Regions from separate parts of the Homo sapiens genome. Here regions 1, 2, 3, 5, 6 and 7 are each linked to region 4. Evidence: fine-mapped expression QTL. A gene starts in region 4. Each other region holds a variant in brackets. All regions are shown on one strand. Distances are from middle to middle.

Evidence for each region. PIP is the estimated chance that this variant, and not a neighbour inherited with it, causes the effect.
Region 1: its variant is fine-mapped to the expression of MAGEC3 in pituitary (GTEx, PIP above 0.99). The same link has a PIP of 0.9 or more in cerebellar hemisphere.
Region 2: its variant is fine-mapped to the expression of MAGEC3 in thyroid (GTEx, PIP above 0.99). The same link has a PIP of 0.9 or more in skeletal muscle.
Region 3: its variant is fine-mapped to the expression of MAGEC3 in coronary artery (GTEx, PIP above 0.99). The same link has a PIP of 0.9 or more in cerebral cortex.
Region 5: its variant is fine-mapped to the expression of MAGEC3 in pituitary (GTEx, PIP above 0.99).
Region 6: its variant is fine-mapped to the expression of MAGEC3 in coronary artery (GTEx, PIP above 0.99).
Region 7: its variant is fine-mapped to the expression of MAGEC3 in nucleus accumbens (GTEx, PIP above 0.99). The same link has a PIP of 0.9 or more in caudate, cerebral cortex and hypothalamus.

Annotation. Positions count from the first base shown.
Region 1 is chrX:141,260,997-141,265,666 of GRCh38, reverse strand. It overlaps the pseudogene RBMX2P2. Among named protein-coding and RNA genes, the nearest start is that of SPANXC, 21 kb to the right of the region's middle. The variant C/A (reference allele first, on the strand shown) is at 1,986.
Region 2 is chrX:141,877,157-141,881,826 of GRCh38, reverse strand. It overlaps MAGEC3 (MAGE family member C3), which reads right to left. Exons shown (of 8, transcript NM_138702.1): 3 at 2,396-2,652; 4 at 31-424. Among named protein-coding and RNA genes, the nearest start is that of MAGEC1, 24 kb to the left of the region's middle. The variant T/A (reference allele first, on the strand shown) is at 2,492.
Region 3 is chrX:141,396,371-141,401,040 of GRCh38, reverse strand. No RefSeq gene overlaps it. Among named protein-coding and RNA genes, the nearest start is that of SPANXA2-OT1, 100 kb to the left of the region's middle. The variant C/T (reference allele first, on the strand shown) is at 2,064.
Region 4 is chrX:141,835,886-141,840,555 of GRCh38, reverse strand. MAGEC3 (MAGE family member C3) reads right to left here and starts at 2,240. Exons shown (of 8, transcript NM_138702.1): 1 at 2,118-2,240. The coding sequence starts at 2,240.
Region 5 is chrX:141,227,597-141,232,266 of GRCh38, reverse strand. No RefSeq gene overlaps it. Among named protein-coding and RNA genes, the nearest start is that of SPANXC, 13 kb to the left of the region's middle. The variant C/T (reference allele first, on the strand shown) is at 2,579.
Region 6 is chrX:141,464,584-141,469,253 of GRCh38, reverse strand. No RefSeq gene overlaps it. Among named protein-coding and RNA genes, the nearest start is that of SPANXA2-OT1, 36 kb to the left of the region's middle. The variant C/T (reference allele first, on the strand shown) is at 2,729.
Region 7 is chrX:141,245,882-141,250,551 of GRCh38, reverse strand. No RefSeq gene overlaps it. Among named protein-coding and RNA genes, the nearest start is that of SPANXC, 5.7 kb to the right of the region's middle. The variant C/T (reference allele first, on the strand shown) is at 2,079.

The sequences.
Region 1 (4,670 bases), 570 kb after region 4:
TTTTGTGGAAATTGGAAGTGTGATTTCTTTTTCTTTCCATTTCAAATTCTAATTGTATATTGTCAATATAAAACAAATCTAATCTTTTTTCTAGCTAACTTACTAAATTTTCTCACCCTGATAGCTAATTTACTGGGTTGCTTTGTGTTTTTCTACGTATAAAATAATAATATTCTCAAATAATATTAATTTTGTCCCACATTCAAAAATGTATACTGCCTGCCTCGGCCTCCCAAAGTGCTGGGATTACAGGAGTTTGAGACCAGCCTGGCCAACATGGTGAAACCCCGTCTCTACTAAAAAAAATACAAAAATTAGCCAGGTGTGGTGGCAGGTGCCTGTAATCCCAGCTACTCCGGAGGCTGAGGCAGGAGAATCGCTTGAACCTGGGAGGTGGAGGTTCCAGTGAGCTGAGATTGTGCCACTGCACTCCAGTCTGGGCAACACAGCGAGACTCCCTTTCAAAAAAAAATAATAATAATGTACACTACATATTTAATTTTCCTATTTCATTGCATTAGCTATTGCAAGTAATAATTACAGAGAGAGAAAAATGTTTCATATACTAATGCTTAACAGTTATACAGAAAACCTGAACACTATGCAGTCATTAACAATGAAATTTTGAAGAATATTTAATGACATGGGAAATGTTCCTCATGTATTAAGTGAAAAAAGAGATTTGTTTTTGGAATATGATATCGATTTTAAAACACACACACACACACACACACACACACACACAGCCATATACATCATTCTCAGTGGAAGAAAAGGCTGGGTGAATACACATCAGTACACAAGCTATTATCACTGGATGATAGAATGTTCCCCTTTTTAATATTTTGAGGTATTTTTCAAATTTCCATGATAAGCACATATAATTCTTATGATCAGAATAAATGCTTTTATTGCAATATATAGAGATTTGTAGGGGAAGTGCTGCCAGACAGTGAGAGGGATCTCCTTAGTTAGTCTATAGTGTCTACCCATTAAGTTCCAAAATATTAACTGCAAAGAGTTTTTTCATATAATGGCAGTTGCTCAACCTCCTGTCCTTATATTTCTATGACTCTAGTTGCTATCTTCACAGATTTGTGGAATGCTGGCACTGCAACTCTCTTTAGTGCAAACTGGCTCTGGTAATGCTGTCTGCAAAATACATTTGCTGGAAAATATATTTGCAATATGGCTACCCTGTTGGATATAAGTAGGAGAAAGGAACAATTTCTGCTGAGTTCTGTCCAAAAGACTCTCCCCTGTTACTTAGAGTCCCTATGCCCCTCACCCCATAGATACTTTTCTGTTTTCCCAACCATCAGTTATCTCCTTAACTGACACAGTTACAGTTAAAACTTGTCCCCTTGCAGGTTTGCTGGTGCTTTACTCTATTTCATACAGGTTATAAAAGTGATTGTTCTGATACCTGAACGCTGAGTGCGAGCCCGCAGAGATGAACCCTTTAAGATGAAGCCGATCAACTAGCTGAATGAGCGAGAGGTCCAGCTTGGGGTGGCCGATAAGATGTCCTGGCCTTCCGAGTACAAGGACAGTGCCTGGATCTTCCTGGGAGGGCTTCCTTATGAACTGACTGAAGGGGACATCATCTGTGTGTTCTCACAATATGGGAGATTGTTAACATCAATCTCATGCGGGACAAGAAGACTGGGAAATCCAAAGGATTCTGTTTCCTCTGCTATGAAGGCCAGAGGAGCACAATTCTGGCCATTGACAATTTTAATGGGATCAAGATCAAAGGAAGAACTATCCGAGTGGATCATGTGTCTAACTATTGGACTCCTAAGGACTCAGAAGAAATGGATAATGTGACCAAAGAGCTCCAGGAGAAGGGCTGTGGGGCTTGTACTCCCTCACCAAGTTTGTCTGAGCTCTGAAAATGAAAAACCAACAAAAAAGCACAAAAATGACAAAAAGAAAAAAAAAAGAAAAAGAGAAAATTGGCTGGGAGGTACAGGCAGAGCAAC[C/A]ATCCTCTTTCATCACCCAGAAGCAAGACAGTGAAAGAAAAGGATGACCCTGGCCCTGAGAAGCACAGCAGCAAGAACTCAGAGAGAGCTCAGAAGTCAGAGCCCAGGGAGGGGATGAAGCTCCCTAAGGCCAGGACTGCCTACTCTGGTGGAGCAGAGGACCTAGAGAGGGACCTGAAGAAAGAGAAACCCAAGCATGAGCACAAGTCCTCAAGCAGGAGGGAGGCAAGAGAAGAAAAGACCAGTAATAGGGACAGAGGGCGGAGCTCAGACACACATTCTAGCCAGTACAATGGGTGTTCTGAAGGGCGTAGTCATAGAAGTAAAAGTAGGAGCCGAATTTCTTTAAGTTCTTTGTAGATTCTGGATATTAGCCTTTTGTCAGATGGATAGACTGCAAAAATTTTCTCCCATTCTGTAGGGTGCCTGTTCACTCTGATGATGGTTTCCTTTGCTGTGCAGAAGCTCTTTAGTTTAATTAGATCCGATCTGTCAATTTTGGCTTTTGTTGCCATTGCTTTTGCTGTTTTAGTCAAGAAGTCTTTGCCCATGCCTATATCCTGAATGGTATTGCCTAGGTTTTCTTCTAGGGTTTTTACAATTTTAGGTCTTATGTTTAAGTCTTTAATCCATCTTGAGTTAATTTTTGTATAAGGTGTAAGGAAGGGATCCAGTTTCAGTTTTCTGCATATGGCTAGCCAGTATTCCCAACACCATTTATTAAATAGGGAATCTTTTCCCCATTGCTCTTTTTTGTCAGGTTTGTCAAAGATCAGATGGTTGTAGGTGTGTGGTGTTATTTCTGAGGCCTCTGTTCTGTTCCATTGGCCTACATATCTGTTTTGGTACCAGTACTGTGCTATTTTGGTTACTGTAGCCTTTTAGTATAGTTTGAAGTCAGGTAGCATGATGCCTCCAGCTTTGTTCTTTCTGCTTAGGATTGTCTTGGCTATACGGGCACTTTTTTGGTTCCATGTGAAATTTAAAGTAGTTTTTCTAATTCTACTTTCTAATTTCTAAGTCAATGTTGGCTTGATGGGGATAGCACTGAATCTATAAATTACTTTGGGCAGTATGGCCATTTTCACGATATTGACTCTTCCTATCCATGAGCATGGAATATTTTTCCATTTGTTTGTACCCTCTCTTATTTCCTTGAGCAGTGGTTTGTAGTTCTCCTTGAAGAGGTCCTTCACATCCCTTGTAATTTGTATTCCTAGGTATTTTATTCTCTTTGTAGCAATTGCTAATGGGAATTCACTCATGATTTGGCTCTCTGTTTGACTATTATTGGTGTATAGGAATGCCTGTGATTTTTGCACATTGATTTTGTATCCTGAGACTTTGCTGAAGTTGCTTATCAGCTTAAGGAGATTTTGGGCTGAGACGATGGGGTTTTCTAAATATACAATCATGTCATCTGCAAACAGAGACACTTTGACTTCCTCTCTTCCTATTTGAATACCTTTATTTCTTTCTCTTGCCTGATTGCCCTGGCCAGAACTTCCAATATAATGTTGAATAGGAGTGGTGAGAGAGGGTATCCTTGTCTTGTGCTGGTTTTCAAAGGGAATGCTTCCAGTTTTTGCCCACTCAGTAAGCAAATTTACAAGAAAAAAACAACCCCATCAAAACGTGGGGGGAAGGATATGAACAGACACTTCTAAAAAGAAGACATTTATGCAGTCAACAAACATATGAAAAAAAGCTCATCATCACTGGTCATTAGACAAATGCAAATCAACACCACAATGAGATATCATCTCATGCCAATTTGAATGGTGATCATTAAAAAGTCAGGAAACAACAGATGCTGGAGAGGATGTGGAGAAATAGGAATGCTTTTACACTGTTGGTGGGAGTGTAAATTAGTTCAACCATTGTGGAAGACAGTGTGGCGATTCCTCAAGGATCTAGAAGCAGAAATACCATTTGACCGAGCAATCCCATTACTGGGTATATACCCAAAGGACTATAAATCATTCTACTATAAAAACACATGGACATGTATGTTTATTGCAGCACTGTTCACAATAGCAAAGATGTGGAACCAACCCAACTGGCCATCAATGATAGACTGGATTAAGAAAATGTGGCACATATACACCATGGAATACTATGCAGTCATAAAAAAGATGAGTTCATGTCCTTTGCATGGACATGGATGAAGCTGGAAACCATCATTCTCAGCAAACTAACACAAGAACAGAAAACCAAACACCACATGTTCTCACTCATAAGTGGGAGTTGAACAATGAGAACACATGCACACAGGGAGGGGAACATCACACACTGGGGCCTGTCGGGGGGTGGGGGGCTAGGGGAGGGATAGCATTAGGAGAAATACCTAATGTAGATGACAGGTTGATGGGTGCAGCAAACCACCATGGCACATGTGTACCTGTGTAACAAACCCGCACGTTCTGCACATGTACCTCAGAACTTAAAGTATAATAATTTTTTTTTTAAAAGACGTAGGAGCCGAGATAAATCCCATAGGCATAAAAGGGCCCGGCGCTCCCGGGAGCGGGAGTCTTCGAATCCCAGTGACAGTAGGCATCACTGAAGACTGTTCAGCTGCTCAGCAGATTTAGAAATAATTATTTTTTTTAATGCAGTCAAATTTAGTTGGGTTGTTACTATTTTTGTATGTAAAACTTCTGGGGCTGTGCTTTTAATCCCTTG
Region 2 (4,670 bases), 41 kb before region 4:
ATAGACGAAATGCTCCCTCTGAGCACACACCCCTATTGCATTCAGCACTTCCCAGATGACCTCCTCAGATGCACAGTTGCCCTTTATGAAGATCACACTCAGAATAAGAATCAGGAGGCGGTTCTGGGGCATGCCCTGCTCATCACTCAGACTCCCCTCACAGGTGAGGTCTAATGTGTTTACAAAGACATAGAAATGGTCGGGGTCCACTTCTGTCAGGGAAATGCCAAAAAGAATCTCTATGAACTCACGGGCTTTCCTGAAGATCATAGGAAAGTAGCCCGTGTATGTGTTGATGACATTCATCTGCATCTCTGCTCTTGTGAGAGGCTCTTTTGCTTGATATTTGAGGAGAAGAAACTGCACCAACTTGTCCACCTTTTCATCCAGTGTATAAGTGAACAAGGGCTCGCTCTCTGGCAAGCTGTGCCAGGTACTTGTATCTTCATCTTATTGGCTGCTAGGCTCTTCATTGAATGGGCTTCATAAAGTGGAGGAGGAGCAGGACAGGGAACCCTGGAGAGGACCCTGGGGAGGACTCTCAGGAGGATTCTGGGGAAGAGGCAGCATCCCAGCAGACAGCTACTCCTCCTCCTCCTCATGAGCACCAAGAATCAGAGTAGAGGATGAGGAGGAGGAGGAGGAGGAAGAGGAGAAAGAGGAGGAGAAGGAGGAAGAAGAGAAGGAAGAGGAGGGGAATAATAAGTAGAAAGAGGAAGAGGAAATGGAGGAGGTTTTCTCCTCTTCCTCCTCTGTGGAATCCTGTGCATCTGCCAAGTTCTCTATCACAGTTTGGTTCTGGAAGTCTTTCTCAAAGTTGCCGCTAGGAACATTTCAAAACACAGGCATAACGTCTTCCTTAGGAGCAGGAGGTAAATGTGTGAGCAGGGATGTGGATGATGGCATCCAACAGGCCTGAGGGAGAGAGGGACACTGCAAGTGGCCTCAGCTGAGAAACTCACCCATGGTGGTTCTGACAAAGGCCGGCTTACAGCTCTTCTTCTCTTAAGGTGGTGCTCTAGGGCCTCACGGGTCACCTGCCATCCTAGGGGGTTTGTCCCCTGGGAACCTGTAGGAGGATGTGAGAAAGCACCTCGGGGCACAGCTGGCAGGCAGAGCCTGAGGCACCAGGAATGGCAGTAGGTGGCTATGGCCAGGTGCTGCCAGGTCTGCTCTGTTTGTGGGGGTAGGGCCCTTGGTACACAGTCAGGGCGTGCACTCACCTTGACTCCTGATATTGCCTGGGCCTCCTCTGCTGTGCTGACTTTAGGAAGTGTGCCTCAGACCCAGGTCTTCAACTCCTGGTTCCTGGAGCACCTGCAAGAGGAAGTGAGGGAGCCCCTCAGGCTAAAGACTGCAAGCAGAGTCTTGGGCCTCCCAAGGCTGACAGCTGGGGCTGACCAGACTCCCAGAGCCCCACAGTTCTGGACTGCATGGTCCCATCAGAATTTAATTAGCATCCTCACCTTTTCTCAGACAGGGCCATGTCCCTACCACTCTTCTAGCCAAAACTCAGGGCAAACTCCACATCCCTGAGAGCAGTGGGAGGTAGTGAGGTGGCAGCCACCTCCCAGCACTCTACCACGGGGGCAGTTGGGCTGGCCTCACATCTGTTCTGATGCACATGTGACTCCTCAGTCCTCACTCTTATCCCCAGCAGGGCCTGGGAATCTTCCCTCTGCCAACTGGAGGCAGCTCCCTGTGCTGATTTGCCACGGGACCCTCAGACCAAGGCCTTCCCTTTCCCTGCACCTCTCACCCAGCAATGAGAGGGCTGCCGCTCAGCCTGAGCTGACTGGGGAGCTCTACGAGGGCTGATATGGAGGAGCATGCTGGGAATCTCTGGGAGTCTGTCCTCTGAGGTGGCGTTTCCCCTTGTCCTTCTCAAAGTCTTCCTATTTATTCCCTAGAGAGCTGGCACCTCCTCCCTTCTTCTGTCATGAAGACGTGTCCCTCAGCCCTCGGTTACCCTCTTCCTGTCTGCGACCTACAATCTCACAGCAGGTAGAGGGCAGGCAAGAGCTTCTTCTTTCTGTGGTGGGAGGTCCCTCAGTTCTCCCTTAGGGCCCTTACCTTGAGGATCGGCCAGTTCTAAGAGTCTTCTGTCTGCTGATCTCAATTAAGCCTTCTCACAAAATGCCTCAAATACTTCAGACTCCCAGTGGGGCTAGGTCTCCTCTCTATGGAGGAACCACCCCTCACCTCTCTACCTCTTTCCCACACTTTCCTGACCACCTCCCGGCCCTTCTCCACCCCTTCCTGCCCATCTCCTGGGCCCCCTCCACCCCTTCCTGCCTACCTCCCCGACCCTTTCCACCCCTTCCTGCCCACCTCTCGGTATCCCTCCACCTTTTCCTCCTCACTTCAAAGCCCTCGTCCATATTTCCCTGCCCACCTCCCCGCTTTCTCCCCCCACAACCTTTTTCCAGGGCTGACGGCAGGAAGGGAAAGGGTGTAGCCTGTGCCTCTCCTCCATGTTGGAAGGTCACTG[T/A]CCTTCCACAGAGTTCTCTTCTCGTTGAGTGGCCAGTCCTGGGGTTCCTCCCTCTGCTTAACTGAAACTGCCCTCCTCAGAGAAAACTTCCCCTCCGGCTGACTCCCAAAATGCAAGTCAGAAAGTTGTAAACCTGGGGACCCTGATAGGGTCCTCCAGAGCTGGCAGCAGGCACAGGGACAGGGGAGGGGCACTACCAGTCATGGGTGTTCCCTTCCTGCCTTCCCGAGAGGCTGTGCCTGGACTCCTGGAAACCGCCTGGCCTTCCTGCCTCTGTGCAACTGAGTCTTTCACCTCCGAATAAGCCCCTCCCATCCCTGAGACCTGCAAGGTGCAAGAGAGGGAGAATCACATCCACCCACAGTGGGGTGGGGCCTCCCAGGCCCAAGGCAGGACTCTGGTGTCCTTTTTCTAAAATGGGGTGGGCAGGACTCTCTGTTTTCCTGCAGTTATTATTCCTGACATGGCCTGGGAGCCCTTCCCCTGCTGTCCAGAGACTATGTTCTTCAGATCAAGGTCCCCATTTCCATGAGACGCCCCCCAAGACGAAGTGAAAAGCGCTAGCATCTCTGACTGAGGGCCCTGCCCAAGGCCTCCCAGGGGTGAAAACAGGGCCTGGATTTGTGTGTCCTTCTGTTTCTTGGGAGGGGTGTCTCACCAGTCCTTCCTCTGTGTCATCCTGGGGATGCCTGGAAGGGCCTGAGTCCCTTCACCTCTCATGATCTGAAGTGAGACTCACCTAGGCAGAGCCTTCTCCTCTTTCTACCCTCTAAAATGTCAGGGGGACACCACAGTGGGCCACCATGCCCCAGGGCCTCCCAGGGCTGACAGCAGCAGTGGAGCTGGATTCTGTGGATCCTTCTCTTTGTGGGCAGGGAGTCTTGCAGTTATCTCTCAGAGGCTTCATGTGACTACTGGCTGGTCCTGGGTCTCCCTGTTCTTCTCATGATGACAGTATAACATACGGCAAAAAATAATGTAATTTTACCCTGAATAAAGCTAAAAAGCACGATGATGCCATGGTAATCAAGTTAACATCATCAGTGACAAATTTTGTTGGTACTATGTGCTGTCGGTATGATAAGAACGGCACTTCACCTCTCTGTTCATCCTTCCAGGAAACATTACCTACATCAAATCATGACAGAAAAAAATCACATAAATCCCAGTCAAAGTCAATTTTACAAAATACCTAACCATACGAAACTGTCAAAACTGTCAATGTTTTCAAAATCGAGAAATGTCTCAATCAACCGGTACAGCCAAAGGGCATCGAAGGAACATGATAACTAAATGTAATGGAGTATCCTTAGGGGATCCTGGCATAGAAAATAGAATTTCGTGAAAAGTAAGAAAATGTGACTGAAGTATGTTCAATAATAAATAAAGAATGTTTGTTAAAAACAATGTACAAATACTGGCTCATTAGTTTTAGGAAACCTTACCAAGGTAAGGTGTTAATAACAGGAGGCATTGAGTGTGGAACATATGAGAACTTTCTTACTATTGTTATAATTTTCTTGTAAATCTAAAATTATTTAAACATAAAGTTTATCAAATATGAAAAATGTTACCAAACTAGATAAAAGGATATGCATGAAAAACCTACAACAGATACATCTTTTAAGGAAATGTTGGAAGCCTCTAGTTTGAACTTGAGACCTAACCTAGAGTTTCTGCTACAAGTACTTCTATTACTTTTTATACTAGAGGTAGTAGCCAGTGTAGTAATCCAAAGAGCAGTAAATGAAGGAATGAGGATTGGCCAGTTGGAAACAAAGCGTTTGTGATTCATGCATGATTAGACTGTGCATGAAAAGAATCCAAAACAACTAAAGATAATTTATTCAATATATAATAGTATATCAGTTTGCTAGTATAAGGTCAATATTCAAAAGAATATCAACTTCGTTTTTTGTCAGGGAAAGAGTATGAAAATGAAAGTAAAGACTATATAATTTTAACCTATAGTACCAAAATATCAAGTATCTTAGGAAAATAATTTAACCAAAAACATTTTAACCAAATAAGACTGGGAGGCAGCTGATGGCTGGTTAAAATATTTTTTGGTTAAAAAAGCTTAACCAAAAAATTTTTACAGACAAAAATATTAAAATGCTGTTGAGGCATATTAACAAAGACCTACCTGAACATAAAATAAAATAAATTCATGGGCATG
Region 3 (4,670 bases), 440 kb after region 4:
ATCATTGTCTATTTTTTTAACCATTATCATAAAGGAGTCAAGAATCTCTGCATTAGTCTATAGGCCTGAGACCTATACAAGTCTTGTCGACAAAATAAGAACACTCAGTTGGGGATTCAAAGGTAGCTGCCTGGACACAGCCAAGTGGTACAGCTGCCACTCAGGGACCAGGAAGACTGTCAGGGTTCTTGCGCAGATTCTCCAAGGTCAAAATGAAACAAAACACGTTAAAGGCAGCTAGAGAGAAAGGCCAGGTCACCAGCAAAGGGAAACCCATGAAACTAACAGTGGACCTCGCAGCAGAAAGCCTACAAATCAGAAAAGGTTGGGGCCAATATTCAACATTCTAAAAGAAAAGAAACTCCAATTCAGAATTTTGTATCTGGCCAAACTAGGCATCATAAGCAAAGAAGAAATAAGATCCTTTTTTGGACCAGCAAATGCTGAGTGAATTTGTTCCCACTAGATCTGTCACTAGAGCTCCTGAAGGGAGCACTAAATATGGAAAGGAAGGACCGTTACCAGCCATTCCAAAAACACACTTAAGTACAGAGAGTGATACCATAAAGCAACCACACAAACAAGTCTTCAAAATAATCAGCTAACATCGTGCTGACAGGATCAAATCCACACATATCAATACTAACCTTGAATGTAAACAAGCTAAATGTTCCAAATAAAAGGCACAGAGTGGCAATATAGGTTAAAAAAAATCAAAAAAACAAACAAAAAAAACCAAACCCCATTGGTATGCTGTCTTCAAGAGACCCATCTCACATGCAATGACACCCATATGCTCAAAATAAAGGGATGGACAAAAATATGCCAAGCAAATGGAAAAAAAAAAGCAGAGGTTGGAAACCTAATTTCAGACAAAATAGACATTTAACCATCAAAGATCAAAAAAAGAAAGAAAGGCATTACATAATAACAAAGGCTTCAATTCAACAAGACCTAACTATCCTAAATATATAGGCACCCAAAAGAGGAGCACACAGATTCATAAAACAAGCTCTTAGAGACCTTCAAAGAGACTTAGACTCCCATCCAATAAAACAGTGGAGACTTAAACACTCTACTGACAATATTAGACAGATCATCAAGGCAAAAAATTAACAAAGACATTCAGGACCTGAACTCAACACGGGCTCAAATGGAGTTGACAGACATCTACAGAACTCTCCACCCCAAAACAACAGAATATACATTCTTCTCATCTGCACAGGGCACATACTCTAAAATTGACCACATATTCAGATATAAAACAGTCCTCAGCAAATGCAAAAGAACTGAAAACATAACAACCACTCTCTCAGACCACAGTGCAATCAAATAAGAAATCAATACTAAGAAATTCACTCAAAATTATACAATTCCCGGGAAATTGAATAACCTGCTCCTGAATGACTTCTGGGTAAGTAATGAAATTAAGGGAGAAATCAAAAAGTTCTTTGAAACTAAAGAGGACAAAGATACAATATTTCAGAATCCCTAGGACACAGCTAATACAGTGTTAAGAGGAAAAATTATAGCACTATTTGCCAAAATCAAAAAGTTAGAAATACCTCAAATTAAAAACCTAACATCACAACTAGAGGGAAAAGAGAAGCAATAGAAAACCAACCCCAAACCTAGCAGAAGACGACAAGAAATAAGCAAAATCAGAGCTGAACTGAAGGAGATTGAGACATGAAGAAAAATTCAAAAGATCAACAAATTTAGCAGTTGGTTTTTTGAAAAAATTAATAAAATGGACTGCTAGCTAGAATAATAAAGAAGAAAACAAAGAAGATCCAAATAAATAAAATTACAAATAACAAAGGGAATACTAACACTGACCCCATAAAAATACAAATAACCACTATAGAATATTATGAAAACCTCCATGCACAGAAACTAAAAAATCTAAAAGAACTAGATAAATTCCTGGACAAATACACCCTCCAAAGACTGAGTCAGGAAGAAATTGAATCCCTGAACTGACCAAAAACAAGCTTGAAAATTGAGTCAGTAATAAATAGCCTACCAAGTGAAAAAAAGCCCAGGACAAGAGAGATACACAG[C/T]CAGATTCTACTAGATATACAAAGAAGACCTGATGTCATTTCTACTGAAACTATTCCAACAAAAATGGAGGAGAGACTCCTCCCTAACTCATTCTGTGAGGTCAGCATCATTCTGATACGAAAACCTGGCAGAGACACAATAAAAAAACTAAAATTCAGGCCATATCCTTGATGGATATAAATGCACAAATCCTCAGCAAAACACTGGCAAACCATATCCAGCAGCACATCAAAAAGCTAACCCATCACAATCAAACCAGCTTTATATCTAGGATGCAAGGTTAGTTCAACATATGCAAATCAATAGATGTGATTCATCACATAAACAGAACTAAAAGCAAAAACCAAATAATCATCTCAATAGATGCAGAAAAGGCTTTTGATAAAATTCAACATCTCTTCATGTTAAAAACTCTCAATAAAGGAAATGTTGAAGGAACATACCCAAAAGTAGTAAGAGCCATCTATGGCAAATCCACAGCCAACATCATACTGAATGGCAAAAGCTGGAAGCGTTCCCCTTGAGAACCGGAACAAGACAAACAAGGATGCCCTCTCTTACCACTCCTATTCAATGTAATATTGGAAGTCCTCGCCAGAACAATCAGTCAAGAAAAAGAAATAAAGGGCATCCAAATAGGAAGAGAGGAATTGAAACTATCTGTTCGCAGAAGACATGATTTTGTGTCTAGTAAACCCCATGGTCTTGGCCCAAAAGCTCCTTGATCTAATAAACAACTTCAGTGATGCCTTAGAATACAAAATCAATGTACAAAAGTCACTAGCATTCCTATAAACAAACAACCGTTAAGCTGAGATTTTAAACTTCCTCTATAAAACTAAATCTCCTTGGATGCATATAATGACTTAGCATCAATTCTAGACTATCGTGGGAATTAAAAACAAAAGCCAGAGTTGATTCCAGACTCTGGAATCCTATGTAATTAGCATTGGTTAAACAGTTCCACATAGAACCACATCTCAAAGGAACTATATTATTTCTTCCAACGATGATCATAGAATAATATTTCAGTTCAAATTTAGAATGGACCAAGAACTCACACCTCTCAGTCTTAAAGCATCTTTACAGTTTTATTTATATTATTGATGTCTATAGTTGATGTAACCTGAATCAAATCCAGGACATTTTGTCTCCAGTCCATGCTGTTGATTACAGTCATATATTTCCTGTTCTGTGTCATTCAAAAGTGTAAATTTTGTCTATAGAATTTATGAAAACGTATAATCAGGATAGCCAGGGTTAGACTATTATTTTGATTAAGCCCTATAAACTAGCTGTAGCTGTCATTACTTAATACTCTCAAATAGGACTTCTACAATGTTTGAAAAATTCAAATTTATCACTGAAAATGTGCCATTTTGAACAACCATTTTTTATGAAATAGTTCATACATGCACAAAAGTATATGTAACATATAAAGAATAAAAGGTAGTAAATCCCTAGGTACTCACCATCCATGTTAAACGGAGCCATTATCCTAAATTATATTTTCAAACGTTTTACCCTATGTATATGACTTGTGCACCTTATTATACCATCAAATTTTGCATTATCTTGAAATCTGGTATATGCTTGCTTACCTTTTTTTCAGTATCATATTTAGCAGCAGACATTCCATGAATGAGATATGAACCTTTGCTTTATTAAGCCACTGAGATTTTAAGATTGTCTATTCCTACAGCATAACCTAGCATATCCTGAGTGATAAATATAGCCACTTTCGTTTTCTTAAAAGATGATGTTAAGAGCATATAAGAAAAAGAGCATAGGTAATAGGCCAAGGTAAATGAATTTAAGGCTGCAATTGCCTGAATCTTTATACTTGATAATTATAGTGACGTAATTCAACCAAGTTTAGCATTCAATCTCATATAAATACATGGTGTCAGATTTACAAATGAAACTTTTTTGACTAATGGAAGGGTATACCTGTAGCAACTCAGGAAAAAGAGATTCTAAAATTGAACTCAGACTGAATCAAACCACTGAAGAAAAATAGCTTTTAACACCATCAGCTTGCATCCCTTTGAGGCATTTGGGTGGGATGGCTACCTTGTTGTGCAGGCACCATCTAATGTTCTTTTTTGTTTTTGTTGGGTATGCTGAACTTCAGATCTAAACCATTTTGGAGGGCTTATCATAATACTGAGTCTCCTGGCTTCACAAGTCATTTCCTTTATAATATGAGGACTCCAGGGAAATCTGGCAGCCATTTCACTTTGTTTCTAACACCGAAGTAGAACACATTGAAGCCATATGGTGGCATCTGGTTTGTGAAAAACAACAAAAAATCAAAACAAAAAAACCCTAAGTTCATAAACATATTTTAAAATAAATTTGGATGGGGGCTTCAGAAACTTTTGCCACAATAGTAATATTGAAAGGGGAACTCTCTTGCTCCAGATTTCTTGGAAATAATTTTAATTCAAAAATTTTTTTGTTTGCTTTTTTGTTTTTAATACTAGGACGTGCCACTAGAGAAAGAAAATATGGAATATTCAACAGCTTAACAAGTTACTGTTTGCCAAGGCTTAAGGAGGGATGGGGCAGGACAAAAATGGGTGTGGCTATAAAAGGACTATATG
Region 4 (4,670 bases):
GTAATGATGCCAAATTTATGAAATGTTCTTAAAGAGGTCTGAACAAAGTTTGCTACATAGAACAAATTCAAAATAATATGTAATTATATGTTTTTCCAATATCATATACTTTTGAAAAATGCAAAATCTTGTGCTAAATGTAACTTTCACTTTCTTAAATCACTTTTATGTCAATATTCTTATGAAAATATTTCTTAAAATTAAATGATATTTTATGACCTGATATTCTCTACTTGTCATTTATTTAGATTGCAAGCTAAAAACTAATTAGAAAGACTATACTTTTGCTGTTAACTTTCTCAGAGGTAAAATATCACTTTTCTTTAGTGGTTTGTGATGCTATGAATGAATACTTTCCAGGTTGGGTATTTCCTGGCTGTTAAATATCAGTTAAGTTTTGGCTGACTTCACCTCCATCTATCAACCTCCCTGCCAATCATTTAACAGCTATAGAATAGGTCTCCTCACACAAATCCTTCAGGAAGAATTTCCATTGTGCACATTCTGACCAGAAGAAAAAATGCAGCAAATTTTTGGAAAGTGAATCATTTTTAGAGTTCTGAGCAAATTATGTTAAACTCAGGGTTTCTCACTGTCAGCACCATCACATTTTAGGCAGTATAATTCTTTCTTGTGTGAGGTCGTCCTTTGTCCAATAAGACGCTTAGAAGCATCTCTGTCTCTGCTTATTAAATACCAGTAGCATTCCCTGCTGCCACCAATTATGACAACCAACAATATTTCTAGATATTGGCAAGTATCCCCTAAGTGGCAAAATCTCTTCCAGTTAAGAACCACTGAGTTAAGAACAGTAAGTAATGATCCAGGGAAAATGGATATAAAGATATTAAAAAGCTAGTAAAGCATTTGACATATTAGAAATGCATATAAACAATTCATATTTATAAAATAAAATCTACTGAAGATATAATGAATAAACACTTGTTTTGGTGAGCAAGCTTGGGATTGCAGCTGTGGGCCTGGAAGTGGTAGGAGCTGCAAAGCCTGCCCAGGATTAGCTGTAGCCAGAGCCGGCAGCCAAGACAATAGCAAAGATCAATTTGACCTCAAGATATAATCAAATATGACAGCAGAGTGAATGAAGCTTTTATTTTGCTCCGTTCTTCTCCATAATCCTTCTTATGCCCATAATCATTATAATTACATAAAATATTTAAAAACCTTTAAAAATTATTTCTTGGAAACCATGAATATGGCAGACTAGAGGCATTTTGTACTCACTTTCTCCATTAAAAATAACCAAACGGTGAGTCGATAATCACACTTTGAATATATAATTCAAAGGAAATCACTGGAATCCATTAGAAAAGTGATAGGCAATACTTAAAGCAGAGATGGAGAGGGAATCAAGGCAGCCTGCTCATCCAGGATCAGCTGTGAGCTGAGAGACTCCAAATACAGAGAAAGGATAGGTGAGAGAGCCTCAGTAGTTTACATTCTCACTATAGACTCCTATAATCCCAGCCACAGGAGATCCCTTCAACCATCATGGGCCCCGAAACTAACATAGAAAGCTGCCAGGAGATTGTATGATGGCACTGCTTCAGGGAGAAAGCTCCCGCTGGGTCCCTCACACTTCTTGAGACTTAAGCAGCTACAACAAAGTACCATTTTAGAGCCCTGCCCTCAACAGACTGAGCACTGTCCTGGAGCCCAGTAGCCCAGGGCTGAGGTGCAAGAGAAGCACGAACTGCTGCCCCAGGGACATAGGCATCAGTGACTACAGACTACAGCATCTGGTGCAGAGGTGGGACGAAGGCGTGGGCTGCTGCTTTTAGGACTGAGGCACAAATGAGGCACCACTGCAGAGCCTCACCCCCGATGAACTACATACTGTCCTGGAGCCCAGTGGCATTGAGGCCTAGGTGCAAACTAAATGTCTGATGTTTCCCTGGAGATTCAGACATGAGCGACCACAGGCTACTGCAACCAAGGGAAAGACATGAACATCAAGGCTGGGCAAGATAGCATCTTAGAGCCTCACCCCCAACAGACTGCACACTGTCTTGGAGCCAAGCAACACTGAGGCTGAGATGCAAAAGAAGAGCTGGCTGTTAACCTGGGGCTTAGACATGAGCATTCATGGGCTACCACACCTGGGGCTGAGGTGGGAGCACCACTGGGGATAAGGCATATGTGGCACATGTGTTTTTCACCCACTGGCCTAGACTGCCATCACTGAAGGTGGCATCCAACACCCAGTGGCAGGGCAGCAGCATGGCCACTGCCACCCTGTCTTTACCAAAGAGATAGAGACCATAAAAAAGGAACGAACAGAAATTCTGGAGCCAAAGAATGCAGTGAATAAACTAAAAAATACACATGAAAGCTTCAACAATATACTCAATCATAACTGACTTATGTTAAGATCACATTTTGCTTGAAGACAGTTTTTTTTGAAATAACGCTGTCAGACAAAAATAAAGAAAAAAAGAAAATAATAAAATAAACCTTTGGAATCTATCTAACAACATAAAGTGACCAAATATAAAAATCACTGATAGCCCAGAAGGCAAAGAGAGAAAACATGTTTTCAAAGACCTATTTATTGAAATAATAGATGACACTTCCTAAGTCGAGCAAGACACTTAGACATTGAGATACAGGAGGCCCATCAATTCCTAAACAGATACAATGTGAAAAGGTCTCTTCCATAGCACATTACAGACAAAATATTTAAAGTTTTTTTTTTCTTTTTTTCCAAGATGGCAGATTGGAAGCATTATAAGCATACTTATCCCACTTGGTAAGACAAAATGGCATGTAGAGATTCATGCTGTAAAATTTATTCGAAGAAACAATGTAAGAACTTAACAGAAAAACTGAAAGAAACCACAGACCCTTTGAATGAAGTGGCAGGCAACAGACTACATCATAAAACAGATGGAAAACCATTAGTCCCCAGAGCATGAGAGAGGGATAGATTGCTGTCATGACATATACTCCCACAGGCGAGCCAGGCAATACAAGTCATGAGGGAGGACTTCAAACCTACTCAGCTCTAGAGGTGATTCAGTGAAAAGTAAGGAATATATAAGAAGGAGCAGCATCGGGACATGCTTTGTGTGCAGACCCAGATTCCAGCAAGAATGGAGGGAAGCCATTCCTGATCCCACCTCACGGGACGTTGCAGAAGTCTAACTCAGGCTGCAGTCACAGTTTGAGAGAAGAGCCCAACTGGGATTTGTGATATAATCCTTAGTAAGGACAAAGCTGATTGGCCAGAACCGAGGGGCAAGTGAGAAGTGTGCTACGGCAACAAGGCACATGAGCTGCATGGCCCTGCTTCACAGGTGGACTGGAAAGGATGCAGCCTGAAAGATATGGTTTCTGTGTCCATAGGGAAAGCTTATGGCCTGGGATGGTTTTAAATTCTGAGCACGGGCCACTTGAAACCCAGTTAGCTGCTGCTGCTAGCAGAACACTGTGGGTATGAAAACTGACTTGCCAAGTGTGTGGGAGCTGAGTGGGGCTTATTACAACCTGCTGCCTCCCACTTTTCAGGCAGATTTTTTGTGCAGCAGAGGCAGCTGTGTTCCTGCCTGGAACATTACCCCACCAGCCAGGGAACTGCCCTCGGATCCCCACTGGGGCCACTGCTTGCACCTGCACATGGGGAGCCAGAGTGCAGACTTGCCTGACTCAGTTTAATAACTTCTGAGGCACAATGAAATCATCCCAATGCCTCCATGTTCAATTTCAGGCACTAACAAGTCCCTGAGGTATTAAATGCATTGCTTTTCTGCGGTCTTGCCACCTTCAGGAGCTTACTAAGAAAATGAAGAAGAGCCACGATCACTCCTCTCAATTAGCCTCTTCCCTTGGCTGAGAAATGTGTTTCCGGTCTTGAGAACACAGAAGTTTTGCATTTGCTCATGAGAGATCTGAAACCTTCTGACACTGCCCTGCATCTTTTCCATTCCCTCTAAATAGAGAAGACTCTTCTCCTGTCTCCTACCTTCTGCTCTGACATCCATTCACTAACACCTAGGCACAAAAAGCCTAGTTCACCCAATGGCAGAAACGGCTAAGGTGGGCCTCTTCCAAGCTATGAACAACATTTCAAAGCTTAAGTCCCTACCCTCTTCCAACACAATGTCCTTTTCATTCCTCTAGCTCAGTAGTGCTCAGATTGGGGGTGATTTTGCACCCCATCCCAAGAAGACATTTTGCAGTCTGGAAATATTTTTGGTTGTCACAACTGGGATGGCTCTTGGTGCTATCGGCATCTATTGAATAGAAACTAGGAATGCTGCTAATCATTCTAAATTCAGCAAGATGACACCCCCTCAAAAAAGCCCACAGAACTATCTGTCTCAAAATGTCAATAGTAATAAAGGTGAAAAACCCTGTAGCTCATTCCTTAATAGGCCACCCAAAGAGATTTTGGATGTTTTCATTTATAAAATTATGCATATATTTTGGCAAATCAACAGCTGTTTCTCACCACTGATGGTTAGACAAGGGAAAGAATAAGGAGACTGATATTATAATGAGCTCATTCTATGCCAGGTACAGTGCTCAATACTTCAGATTTATATTATCACATTTAATCTGTTAAAAATGTCCCAACATGTAGTAACAAGAGTTATTTTTATTTTACAAAGTTAAAAGAAAACTGAATTTTGAACAAATTGAAAGATCGATTC
Region 5 (4,670 bases), 610 kb after region 4:
AAATTCTAGAGTTGCCTGATGTTTTTCAGTTATTATTTGCTACTGTTTAATTAAATTCTAATTTTTCTGACTACAAGACTTCAAAATAAGCTGTGCTTTCTTAAAGCCCTATAAACTGGAAACTAGATGTTTCAGCAGGCACTGCCTCTAAGCCCCCTAACCCTCACAGGAGCAAATAAAGAAATAGGAAATCGTAAGCTAAAAATCATAAAAAATAAATAACCGAGAAAGAATTGCTCGTCTTACTCAGTCTCACCCCTACCTCACCAAACACTTTTGTCATTCCTATCTCTCCTTTCAAGCCAAATATTACAACTTTTTAATGGAAATTATTGACTACACCACCCTTGTGGAAACTGCTTTACTCACCCTACTATTTGCAGTAAAACTATATACTGTAGCACCCTCAGGGTAAAATGTCAGACAAAAACAATCTCAATTACTGTAGCATTTTGCTTAATTATTAGCCTCTTAGCAGGAATAACGCTTACTAACAGAAACTAACACATGGGCCTTTCCAAACATGTGCTTCTACCTCTCATTAGGTAAGGAATATTGTTTCTTTATCAACCAATCAGGCCTAGTTAAAAAACGCTGCTAAAACAAACATAAAGAAAAGGCTAAAAAGCTAAGGGAGTACCAAAACAACCAAATAAGTTCTTGGTTTGGGAACACAATCATAGCATGGGTCATCCTATTTCTGGGCCCTCTCCTAACAATATGCCTGGGACTAATTTTCTTACCCTGCCTAATTAACCTTTCTCGGAAAATTTTAACTAACAGGATCACGGCCATTTCACAGACAACTACCCAAAAACATCTACAGACGGCATTGCTCCTACTGTCAACCCAAAAAACTCTCCGTCCCCTCGTCAGCAGGAAGTAATTTTCATTTCAGGGAGATCTTCCAATTTATTGACATACAGTTTCCCACGGTCACCACAAGAGCCCTTTGAATTTTTGCAGCTTTAGCCTGTAATGTCTCCTTTCAATTTTGGAGTTTATTTATCTCGATCTCTCCTTTTTCTTCCTTAGATTGGCTACAGGTTTCTCAATTTTGTATAGCTTTTTAAAAAAAACCCAACTTTTTGTTTCCTTGATAGTGTTTTGACTTTCTTCATTTTACTTTCATTTATTTCTGCTCTGGTCTTTCATTATTTCTTTTCTTCTACTGATTTGGGGTTCACTTTGAGCTTATTTTTCTGTTTTTTTAAGATGCGTCATGAATTATTTGCAGGTGTTCCTCTTTTTCAATGTAGGCACTTATAGCTATAAACTTCCCTCTTAATACTGCTTTTGCTGTATCCCATGGGTTTTGGTATGTTGTGTTTCCATGATCATTTATTTTGAGAAATTTTACAATTTAGTTTTTAATTTCTTCATTGACCTGTGGGTCATTCAGGAGCATTTTTTTTTTTTTAATTCTATGGATTTGTATAATTTTCAAAGTTCCCCTTGTTATTTTCGGGATTTTCTTTTTTTGTTTTTTGGTGGTCAGAGAAGAAGCTTGAAATTATTTCAATTTATTTGAATGTTGATGTTTTAAGACTTGTTTTATGACCTAACATATATTCTAACCTTGAGAATGATCCACGTGCTGGGTAAAAGAAGGTGTATTTTGCAGTCCTTGGAAGAAGTGTTTTGTAAATGTCTGTTACATCCATTTGGTCTGTAATGTACATTAAGTGTGATGTTTCTGTGTTGATTTTATGTCTGGAAGAACTGTCCAATGCTGAAAGTAGGGTGTTGAAGCCCCCAGCCATTATGCTATTGGGACCTATCTCTCCCATTAGTTGTAATAGTGTTTCCTTTATATACCTTGGTGCTACAGGGTTGGGTGCACATATATGTAAAGTTCTTATAGCCTTTTGTTGAACTGATCCCTTCATTATTATATAGTGACTTTTTTTCCTCTTACATTTTGTGTCTTGAAATCTATTTTGTTTGCTAGGAATATAGCTAATCCTGCTTCTTTTTGGTTCCATTCGCATGGAGCATCTCTTTCTATCCCTTTATTTTCAGTCTATGTGTGTCTTCAGAAGTGAAGTGTGTTTCTGGCAGGCAACAGATCAATGTGTCTTGTTTTTTCATACATTCAGCCAGTCTATGTCTTTTCATGGAAGAGTTTAGCCCATTTACATTCAATGTTACTATTGATAAGTAGGAACTTACTCCTGTCATTTTGATTTTTATGTTCAGATGTTTTTGTGATCTTATCTTCCTTCTTTCTTTCCTTTCTGTCTTTTCTTAGGATGATTTTTCTGTGGGTAGATGATTTAGTTCCTTGCCTTCGAATTTTTGTGTATATATTGCATGTTCTTTAGTTTCAGGTTACCTTGAGGCTTGCAAATAATATCTTATAAACCATTATTTTTAATCTGATATTTACTTAAGACGATTTTGACAAACAAACAGCAAACAAAAATAAAACTAATAAAGCTGCATCTTAACTTTGTCCCACTGCTTTCTAATTTTTTGTCATTTCTTTCTGTATCTCATTGTGTTGACTGTGTCTTGAAAAGTTGTGCTTTTCCATTTTGATTGGTTTATCCTTTAGGCTTTCTACTTAGAATAAGAG[C/T]GCTTTACACACTACAGTTACTTTTTTAAAATATTCTGTTTTTCTGTGTACTTACAATGACCACTGAGTTTTGTACCTTCAGTTGATTACTTATTGTTCAGTTGATTACTTATTGTTCAGTACCATCCTTTTCTTTCTGATTGAAATACTCCTTGTAACATTTCTTGTAGGACAGGGCTAGTGATGATGAAATCCCTCAGGTTTTGATTCTCTGGGCCCATTTTTATTTCTCCTTCATGTTTGAAGGATAGTTGTTTCAGATATATCATTCTAAGGTTAAAATTTTTTTCTTTCAGCACTTTAAATATGTCATGCCACTCTCTCCGGGCCTGTAAGGTTTCCACTGAAAAGTCTGCTGCCAGACATATTGGAGCTCCATTGGATGTTATTTGTTTCTCTTCTCTTGCTGCTTTAAGAAAAGTTCTTTATCCTTGATTTTTGGGAGTTTCATTAATGAATAACTTGAAGCACCCTTCTTTCAGTTAAGTCTCCTTGGTGTTCTATAACATACTTGTACTTGGATATGTGTCTCTTTCTCTAGGTTTGGGAAGTTCTCTATTATAATCTCTTTGGAGAAACTTTCTACTCATATGTGTTTCTGTACCTCCTCCTTAAGGCCAATAACTCTTAGATTTGTCCTTTTGAAGCTATCTTCTAGATCCTGTAGACATGCTTCATTGCTTTCTACTCGGTTTTTCTTTTGTCTTTTCTGACAAAAGACCATTTTCAAATAGCCTTTCTTCAAGCTTATTAATACCATCTTCTGTTGATTGATTCTGCTATTAACAGAATTTGAGAGATTCTGCAGCCTATCACTTGCATTTTTCAGCTCTACAATCTCTGCTTGATTCATTTTCATTCTTTGAAACTTACTGTTAATTTTCTGTCTCGTTGATCTGTCTAATGTTGACAGTGGGTTGTTAAAGTCTCCCATTATTATTGTGTGGGAGTCTAGGTCCCTTTGTAGGTCTCTAAGGACTTCCTTTATGAATCTGGGTGCTCCTGTATTGGCTGCGTATATATTTAGGATAGTTAGCTCTTCTTGTTGAATTGATCCCTTTACCATTATGTAATGGCCTTCTTTGTCTCCTTTGATCTTTATTGGTTTAAAGTCTGTTTTATCAGACACTAGGATTGCAACCCCTGCCTTGTCTTGTTTTCCACTGGCTTGGTAGATCTTCCTCCATCCCTTTATTTTGAGCCTATGTGTGTCTCTGCACGTGAGATGGGTTTCCTGAATACAGCACACTGATGGGTTGTGACTCTTTATCCAATTTGCCACTCTGTGTCTTTTAATTGGAGCATTTAGCCCATTTACATTTAAGGTTAATATTGTTATGTGTGAATTTGATCCTGTCATTGTGATGTTAGCTGGTTATTGTGCTCCTTAGTTGATGCAGTTTCTTCCTAGCTTCGATGGTCTTTACAGTTTGGCATGTTTTTGCAGTGGCTGGTACCAGTTGTTCCTTTCCATGTTCAGTGCTTCCTTCAAGAGCTCTTTCAGGGCAGGCCTGGTGGTGACAAAATCTCTCAGCATTTGCTTGTCTATAAAGGATTTTATGTCTCCTTCACTTATGAAGCTTAGTTTGGCTGGATATGAAATTCTGGTGAAAATTCTTTACTTTAAGAATGTTGAATATTGGCCCCCACTCTCTTCTGGCTTGTAGAGTTCCTGCCGAGAGATCAGCTGTTAGTCTGATGGGCTTCCCTTTGTGGGTAACCCGACCTTTCTCTCTGGCTGCCCTTAACATGTTTTCCTTCATTTCAACTTTGGTGAATCTGACAATTATATGTCTTGGAGTTGCTCTTCTCGAGGAGTATCTTTGTGGCGTTCTCCGCATTTCCTGAATTTGAATGTCGGCGTGCCTTGCTAGATTGGGGAAGTTCTCCTGGATAATATCCTGCAGAGTGGTTTCCAGCTTGGTTCCATTCTCCCCATCACTTTCAGGTACACCAATCAGACGTAAATTTGCTCTTTTCACATAATCCCGTATTTCGAGGAGGCTTTGTTCATTTCTTTTTATTCTTCTTCTCTAAACTGCTCTTCTCGCTTCATTTCACTCATTTGATCTTCCATCACTGATACCCTTTC
Region 6 (4,670 bases), 370 kb after region 4:
CTTAAATAGTCATACTTCATTTCAATTGAAAAACTTTGCACAACTGAAAGAATGACAAAAATGCTATTGTTAAAGAAAAAAAAAAACTTTGGAAAGTTATGAATGTCTAAAATTTCCTGCAGTTATTTTTGCAAGGATTGATTCATATTCAGATTAGCTTCCTGCCAGATGGAAGAAACACACAGTAAATCAACTTTTGCAGGAGAGAAATCAAAAAGAAGCATAAGCTGCTATTTAAAGGGGTTTCTTCCTTTTTTGCCATATTAATAGCACATTAACCCTTAGGGAGTGTTATTGCAAGAAGCCAAACCACGGAGGCTACCATTCCATCCTTCAGGAAGAATAAATATTTTTCAGCCCAGTAGGTTGGGGAAAAATAGCTCCTTGGATTGCATACTCAAAAAAGTGTTTCTGTTTAATCATGGTCAAGTTTCATGCACTCCAAAGCAGTAATGAAAGAGTAAATGTATGGAAATAGGGAATGAATTCCTCCTCTTGCACCCAGTGAAACCCCGCTTTAGTTAATTGTTCCTGGGATGCATTAAGGATACAGTAGATGAGATGGATCGATGTCCTTGGGGGTATTCTAAACCAGGTGTGTGTTTTTTTGGGGGGTGGGGAGCGGTGCTGGCGGAGCCCCTCCAGTACCTTTAAGGAGCTCCCTTTATTATTCTGGCCATGTGATCCAAGTGCATCAGAACACAATCATACCACTTGGTTGTACCAGTGCTGGAGACTAGGTTTTCTCTCTGAACCAGCAGTCACTCTTCCTGCTTAGTTCTCTCCTTGTCCTTCCTTCTAATCTTCAACTTGTTCTTGTCCTGATGTCTTTGCCTCACAATTTCAACTTTATGCCCTTTTTGTTTCACATGTGATCTAAGCATTCCTTGTGATAATACCCTGCTCTCCACTGTAGTTGAATAAAGTATCCAGGCTGTGACCCTCCAGACTTGAGCCATCCTCAAGTGCCCTCTTTCCCCTATATACTGACTTCATGGGGATAGCTTTTCACCTGGCCTGTTTCAGCCTTGACACTTTGATGATAATGGTAGCAATGTAGCTATAACATTTGTTTTCTGAGCACCTACTGTGTGTCTATCTTCTCAACAGCCCTGTGAGAGAGGTATTATTATTATTCCAATTTTATAGATGAGGAAATTAGGCACAGATAGTTAAGAAAACTGCTCAAAGATTACAGAGCTTATAATTGACAGAACTTCGCTTCTGATGCAAATGAGTCTGAATTCAAAGCCTGTGCTCTTAACCACTATGCTATATCAGAGTCTTAAACTAAAATGCACCAATTAATCACCTGGGAATCCTGTTAAAATGCAGATTCTGATTCAAATGGTCTGGGATGGGACTTGAGAATTTTCATTTTTTTATTAGCTCCCAGGAGATGCCAATGTTGTTGGTTTAATGTACCAGACTTTGAAGAGCAAGAAACTATATAGGGTGCAGCATTTCAAGAAAACAGATGCTTTGGAAATCTCTTCCGCCCGAATTTCCAGAAGAGATGCTACAAATTCACCATACCACACCTGTGCATTTTTCATGTATTGGAGGGATAAGAATGCTGGCTCTTCCATGCAGTACCAAAAGCTGCCACCATTTAGTAAGCGCTTTCTCACTTCTAGTCACTGTTGTTGTAAGTGCATTTCAGAAACCAACTCACTTAATCCCTACAACAGACTTAGGCAAAAAGTCATACAACTAATAAAAGTGATGGAACTGGATTCATACCTAAAGAGTCTAGCTCTAGAGCCCACATATAACCAATATACGCTTTTTAAGTATAGCAGAGTGGTCTGAGATCAGCTTAGGGCAGTGGTTGACAGTGGGCTCTGACATTAGTTTTGAGTCTGGATTCATTACTTCTTAGGTGTATAACCTTGGATATGTCCTTAACATTATTCTGTTCATTTTAATTTCTACCACTTCTGGTGTCTGGTCCAACATGTAAGGTGCTTGGAAGTTGTTGCTCCTTCCTATCAACATGTGAAGAGCTGAACAAAAGGGAAAATCAACAACTATTCTTAGGCTATAGATTCATCAAAGAAGTGAGGTCACAGAGTAAATTGCTGCCCCCAAAATTGGAGACAGAAACAGGCAGACAAAGGGAATCACAGCTTACTAGAGCAGAAACCCCAAAGCAGAAACCTCCACAAGAACCAATGCCATAGTAAGAAAACGTAAACTGTAATTGGTGAAACGCTGGAGGCTCAGAGTGGACAACTCTGAAAGTTAAAAACTTCTGTTATATGGCTGCACTTACATTTTGTGAGTTTTTACCTTTTGGAGCTCTATTGGGTCTTCATAATGAGCATCAGAAAGTCCCCTCATGCTTTAGAAAAGTAAACATTCTGAAATACACCAAAGCATTTTGTTCTTCTTCAGAAGACATGTCCTTAGGAGAAACTACAGTATTTTACAAGAGTCTAACCTGCTGGGACTATTTCAGAACCTACTTGTGGGAAGGAAAATACCCAATTCCAGCTCCCTGTAGCCTTTCATGTGAGGAAAGGGAGATGCTCAACTCTCACCACTATAAACATTCTGTCCTATCCAAGGGGGAAGAAGCTGAGAAGTATTGGCTAAGTTCACAGTTTAGGGGCACAGGTTCACCAAAAGACAAAGCTAATCACCCGGCGCGGTGGCTCACACCTATAATCCCAGAACTTTGGGAGGCTGAGGCGGGTGGATCACGAGGTCAGGAGATCGAGACCAT[C/T]CTGGCTAACATGGTGAAACCCTGTCTCTACCAAAAATACCAAAAAATTAGCCAGGCATGGTGGCGTGCGCCTGTAGTCCTAGCTACTTGGGAGGCTGAGGCAGGAGAATCGTTTGAACCCAGGAGGTGGAGGTTGCAGTGAGCCGAGATCACCCCATTGCACTCCAGCCTGGTGACAGAGTGAGACTCCTTCTCAAAAAAAAAAAAAAAAAAAAAAGACAAAGCTAATCATAAAGCTATAGAACACTTCACATGCCACCTTCAAACACATACCACTACATCATTCAGGGCCTCTTCATTGCAGTTTCTCTCACCCAATGTACGATGTTCATCCTTCAACAAAATATTACAAGGACATTACTGGCAAAACAAAGTTTGAAGAGATTGAACAAACATCAGAACAAAATTCAAATATATCAGGAATGGTGGCATTATCAGACGAGGAATTTTTTTGAAAATACGTATTATTGTACTAAGAGCTTTAATGGAAAAAGTAGACAACATGCAAGAACAGATAGATAATGTAAGCAAAGAGATGGAAATTCTGAGATAGCATTTAAAAGAAATGCTAGAGATCAAAGACACTGCAACAGAAATGAAGAATGCCTGTGATGGGCATATTAGTAGACTGGATGCAGCTAAGGAAAGAATCTCTGAGCTTGAGGGTATGGAATAGACACTTTCAAAACTAAAAAGAAAAAAGAAAAAAAAATACCGAAAACCCCCAGAACAGAATATCCAGGAACTGTGGGGCAACTCTTAGAGGTATAACATACACATAATGAGGATATCAGAAGGAAAAGAAAGAGAGACAGGGACAGAAGAAATGTGTAACAGAATAATAACTGAGAATTTCCCCAGATTAATATCAGACACCAAACCACATATCCAGTAAGCTTGGAGAACCAAGCAGGATAAAAGCCAAAAAAAAAAAAAAACACAAACATACACATAGGCATACCATTTTTTTTTTTTTTTTTTTTTTTGAAGACAGAGTCTCAGTCTGTCACCCAGGCTGGAGTGCAGTGGCACGATCTCAGCTCACTGCAAACTCTGCCTCCCGGGTTCAAGCGATTCTCCTGCTTCAGCCTCCCGAGTAGCTGGGATTACAGGTGCCCACTCCACGCCCAGCTAATTTTTGCATTTTTACTGGAGATGAGGTTTCACCATGTTGGCCAGGCTGGTCTCAAACTTTTGACCTCAGGTGATCCACCCGCCTTGGCCTCCCAAAGTGCTGGGATTATAGGCGTGAGCCACCACGCCCAGCCAGGCATACCATTTTCAAACTGCAGAAAATCAAAGATAAGAAAAGAGTCTTGAAACAAGCCATCAGAAACAAAAGACACCTATATAGGATCAAAGACAAGAATTACACTTGACTTCTCAGAAACCAGGCAAGCAAGAAAAAGGTGGAGTGAAATATTTAAAGTTTTGGTAGAAAAACAACTTCACCAACCTAGAATTTTGAATCCTATAAAATTATCCTTCACAAGTGAAGGAGAAATAGAGACTTTCTTGAATAAACAAAAATTGAGAGAATTTATTGCCAGAAGACTAGCTTTGAAAGAAATGTTAAAAGTTATTCAGAGAGAAGGAAAATAATATAGATTAGACACTTGGATCTACATAAAGAAATTAGAGAAAGAATAAGTAAACTAAAAGCTTTTATTTTTCTTATTTGTAATTGATGTAACATATAATGGTTTGTTTAAAAAAGAATAGCAACAATGTATTCAATATATATACTTCTGTATTTATATGCTTATATATAAGTAAAATAAATGATAGCAATGTTGCAAAGGACAGGATGGAGGAATTCAGATTATTTTGTTATTTTAAATTACTTTCATTACCCATGAAGTGGTATAGTGTTATTTGAAAGTGGACCTGGATTGGTTTTAAACATATATTGCAACTTTAGGGAAACCACCAAGAAAAGATT
Region 7 (4,670 bases), 590 kb after region 4:
CGGATGTGAAGGACCTCTTCAAGGAGAACTACAAACCACTGCTCAAGGAAATAACGAGGACATAAACAAATGGAAAAACATTCCATGCTTATGGATAGGAAGAATCAATATTGAGAAAATGGCCATACTGCCCAAAGTAATTTATAGATGCAATGCTATCCCCATCAAGCTACCACTGACTTTCTTCACAGAATTAGAAAAAACTACTTTAAATTTCATATGGAACCAAAAAAGAGCCCGTATAGCCAAGACAATCCAAAGCAAAAAGAACAAATCTGGAGGCATCATGCTACCTGACTGCGAACTATATATACTACAAGGCTACAGTAACTAAAATAGCATGGTACTGGTACCAAAACAGATATGTAGACCAATGGAACAGAACAGAGCCCTCAGAAATAACGCCACACATCTACAACCATCTGATCTTTGACAAACCTGACAAAAACAAGCAATGAGGAAAGGATTCCCTATTTAATAAATGGTGATGGGAAAACTGGCTAGCTATATGCAGAAAGCTGAAACTGGATCCCTTCCTTACTTACACCTTATACAAAAATTAACTCAAGATGGATTAAAGACTTAAATGTAAGACCTGAAATCATAAAAACCCTAGAAGAAAACCTAGGCAATACCATTCAGGATATAGGCATGGGCAAAGACTTCATGACTAAAACACCAAAAGCAATGGCAACAAAAGCCAAAATTGACAAATGGGATCTAATTAAACTAAGGAGCTTCTGCATAGCAAAATAAACTATCATCAGTGAATAGGCAACCTACAAAATGGATGAAAATTTTTGCAATCTATCCATCTGACAAAGGGCTAATATCCAGAATCTACAAGGAACTTAAACAAATTCACAAGAAAAAAAACAAACAACCCCATCAAAAAGTGTGCGACAGGCGTGTGGCTCCTCTGGCTGCCATGCATGTTCAAACCCCTCATGGGAAAGGGAACACACAGACAGGCAGGTGCAGAAGCTGGGGCAAGCACTCCTGGGCTCTAGACCCATGGCAGCATCCAGGGGTGGGTGCCTGTGAAGCCCAAAGCCCAAGTGGGTGTATATTACAGTGTGCTCTTTTAGCTTTGCCATCCACGGATGGCTTAAGTGTTAAACAGCTTAATGGACCCTCTGCCTTTTCACAAGGGCAGAAAGCCAGTGTGACAGCTTTCTGTATCCCAAACTCTTGTCCAGCATCCAGGAAAAATCAGGTCTCACATGGATTTGAAGGATGGTGAATGTGGAGGTTTTATTGAGTGGTCAGGGTGGCTCTCAGTGGGACGGATGGGGAGCTGAAAGGGAGACAGAGTCAGAAGATGATCTTTCCCTGGAGATTTGCTGTCCCCAGCTGAACTCCTCTCAATGTTCAGATGCTCCTTCTCTTCTCTCCTTCTCTGCCATTCTTCTGCTCTTCTGTTCCTCTGCTCGTCTGCTCATGGAGCCTAGGCTTTGGGGTTTATATAGGTACAGGATAGGGGGATGTGGTGGGTCCAAAGGCAACTTTTAGTCATGAAAACAGGAATGCCTGTTCCCATTTAGAGCCATGGGTTTCCAGGCTTGAGGGTAGCACTTTTGCTGGGGAACCACCCTCTCCTACCCAGTATTTCCTTGTCTCCTGTCTGTATCATCAGGACTTCCTGAGGCTGCGTCATGGGTGCATCCTTAACCTTGGCAAAATTAATTTTCAAAATTGACTGAGACCTGTCTCAGATATTTGGGGTTCACATTTGGGTAACCACAGAGGGATTCTGAGTGTAGGTGCCCCTGACCTTTCACAAATCTTCTACTGGTACTTGGTACCAGCTTGAGCTATCTTCATGGTTAAAACCAATAGGACAATTTGCTGAGGCCTGAAAGCCACCCCTCCAAAGAATCCCTGATCTCCAAAAATTTGGTTGCAATCTAAACTTTATTTTGCTGCACAACTCCTTTTCTGAAAATTTACCTGCTTTCAACAAGGAAGGCAAGTTTTCCTGCTTCCATGTCAATGGAAGGCAGGTAATTCCTTTATGGAGTTTGACCTTGCTCCCAGCACGGAAGATGAATCTGAGTTTTTTCCTGCTTCTAGGGTAA[C/T]AGACAGCAGTCTTCAGCCTGAGACCCATCACTAGGTAAGTAGCTCAATAGGGGTTTTGTCTTGTCTAAAGTTAAGATTAACAACAAGCTGGTCTTAATTTCTCCTTACCATTAGAGTGCTCAGTAATCATATAAATTTTGAGATACTTTGTGTTTTTGCTTAACTTTTTTTTTTTTTGCCGTTGTTTGTTTCTGTTTTTGTTGTTTTGGTCTTTCTTTCTTCATTGGGAAACTATCCAACTTGATCAAATCTAAAGGAAAGTTCCAAATTATGAGGAACAAGGCCTCTGAAGTGGCTAAATTTCCACAAAAGGTGGGGAGGGCTTGGGAGGAAAAATGCTCAGCAAAAGAAAAAACAATAAAGATTTTTGATTTTGAGTACTTAAGGGGCTTTATGTACATAGCAAGGCCACTTTTTTGCTATCCAGGCCAAATTGAAAGAGCAACGCTGTTGCCCCATGCTGCAGTTTCATAGCTAAGGTTCTGCCTTCTTTTTTTTCCACAACAGCCTGGGTTTGCTTCCTAAATCAAGCCCTTTCTGGTTTGATACTTGCTTCTTTTGAAACATCAGCAATTTTTCCTAGCTAAAAAATGGTAATGAGATTCAGAAAGATTTTTTTAAAGGAGCTCAAGGGTTAAAAGTCAGCTTAATTAAAAGCTAACATCTGAGATGTGTGTGTGTGTGCATGTGTGCATTTGTATTAAAAGGCCTTTATTTTTTCCTCTGTTAGAAACAGATAATCGGTGCCATGAAGAAAAGACAAAGGATCTCTCAGCAAGGCAATCTTTACTTTCTGCAGAAAGGGTGCCCCTCGCAGATCGAACAATCGTGACAGCACACTTGAACAAAGGAAAAGCAGACATATTTATTATTTACGTATTTGGGTCAGCCTTACGGCTCTGTCCTGCATCCATTGGCTGGAGCTGGACCTCACAGTCTTCAACTGATACCAAATCTGCTAATAACCTAAAACTTTCCTAAACAGGTAAGTGCAAGGGAGAACAAAGAAGAAAAAGAAGTTGCTTACTAAAGGTTTAAGGAAGCAATTAACATTTCAAAAAAGGAAGGGGCATAAGCTATGAGCTAAGACTTGCCTGGGCCTGTCCAGACATGCCTGAGTAAGCCAAAGCAACTAACTGGGCTCAAGTGTAAGAACTAGTAGTTGAGAGGAGGCTTTAGAGTAAGGAGCTATTACTTATAGTGTCTATTATTTTATTTTTAAACCAAGATGAGTTTTGAAGAGAAACATTACTACTTTCTACATCTTCTCTCCTAGGACCTTGTCTTTTTTGAGCAAAAGTTTTTTTTTTTTTCTTCTCAGACGATGACATTCTGTTTTCTTCATTTACTTCTGCTGTCTCTCCTTTATTTTGCTACCCACTGTTGCATGAGGGACGTAAAATAGTTTATAATTGCCTGCATTCCTTAAAGAAAATGGAGAAGATGCCACACTCCCTTTTGGGGAGAAACCTCTATTTTTCCCAAGAGTGTAAACAGACAAGTTCATCTCAGATCTTAAGCTGCCTGCTTTTGTATTGTGTTACTTGATTTTTTAACTAAAACTGTTATTAGTTTATTCTTGGATTTTTAAGGAAGAAAGTAGCTTGAACACTTAGAAATGTCTTTGTTAAAAAAAAAAAAAGGACACTGTAAAACCGTCACTTGGTGTAGCCTCATAGTAATTCTCCCTTTTTGGAGACCTAGGATTCAGTGTGGGCTCTGCCCAGAGCTCAGAGATCCAGTTAAAAGACAGGTAGTCCCTATCTAAATACAACTGGTCTCCTTATACAATCCTATAATATATTTCTACAATTTTGTGTTTGATTTGGCATCCATGTTTAATCTCCCTCTAACATCGCCCGACTCTTTCTCTCTGTGCTTTGACATGTAAATTTCACTATCTGATTTTTTTTACCTAAGAGTTCCTTTAATATGCACATTTAGGGCTATCTAGATGACAACTGCCTAGGGCAATAAAATAGGTTATGAAGAAATTGTAAATCTAAAATACGAGGAAAAAATAAAGGCCTTAGGAATTTATAAGATCTACTTCTATCTACATATCTAATACATCTATGTATTTATGTGTCATGGATATGACATTTCACTACTAAAAATGTAGAAAAGAGCTCTAATTAATTGGCTTAACAAAGGCACTTAAATCTAATGCTTTTCAGAAAAATAGACTTTAAGCCAAATGCTTTTTCAAGTTCATGTGACTTAAGCAAATCTTCAATAAACAAGCTGGTTTTAAAAATTTTAGTGAAATTGAATTAGAAATGGCTTTGGAATTCTCAACATATTTATCTCTGCTAGATGTCAACATTTGGCATGAGGGTTCTAAAGCTATGAATGCAGCTCAAATGAGAATTATCTTTGTTTATGTAAAATTTAGTAAGTAAGGAATTTAATATTGTTTGGTTAATGAAAATAGCTAAATCCTGAGTTATTGACAAAAAAACAAAAACAAACAAACAAACAAAAAAACGACCCTTTATCTAACCTTAATGTTCTTACTCAGGACAACCTGAAATTCACAGGTTATAAAAATGGTTAACAAGGACATAACTTTAAATGGTAACTATCACAGT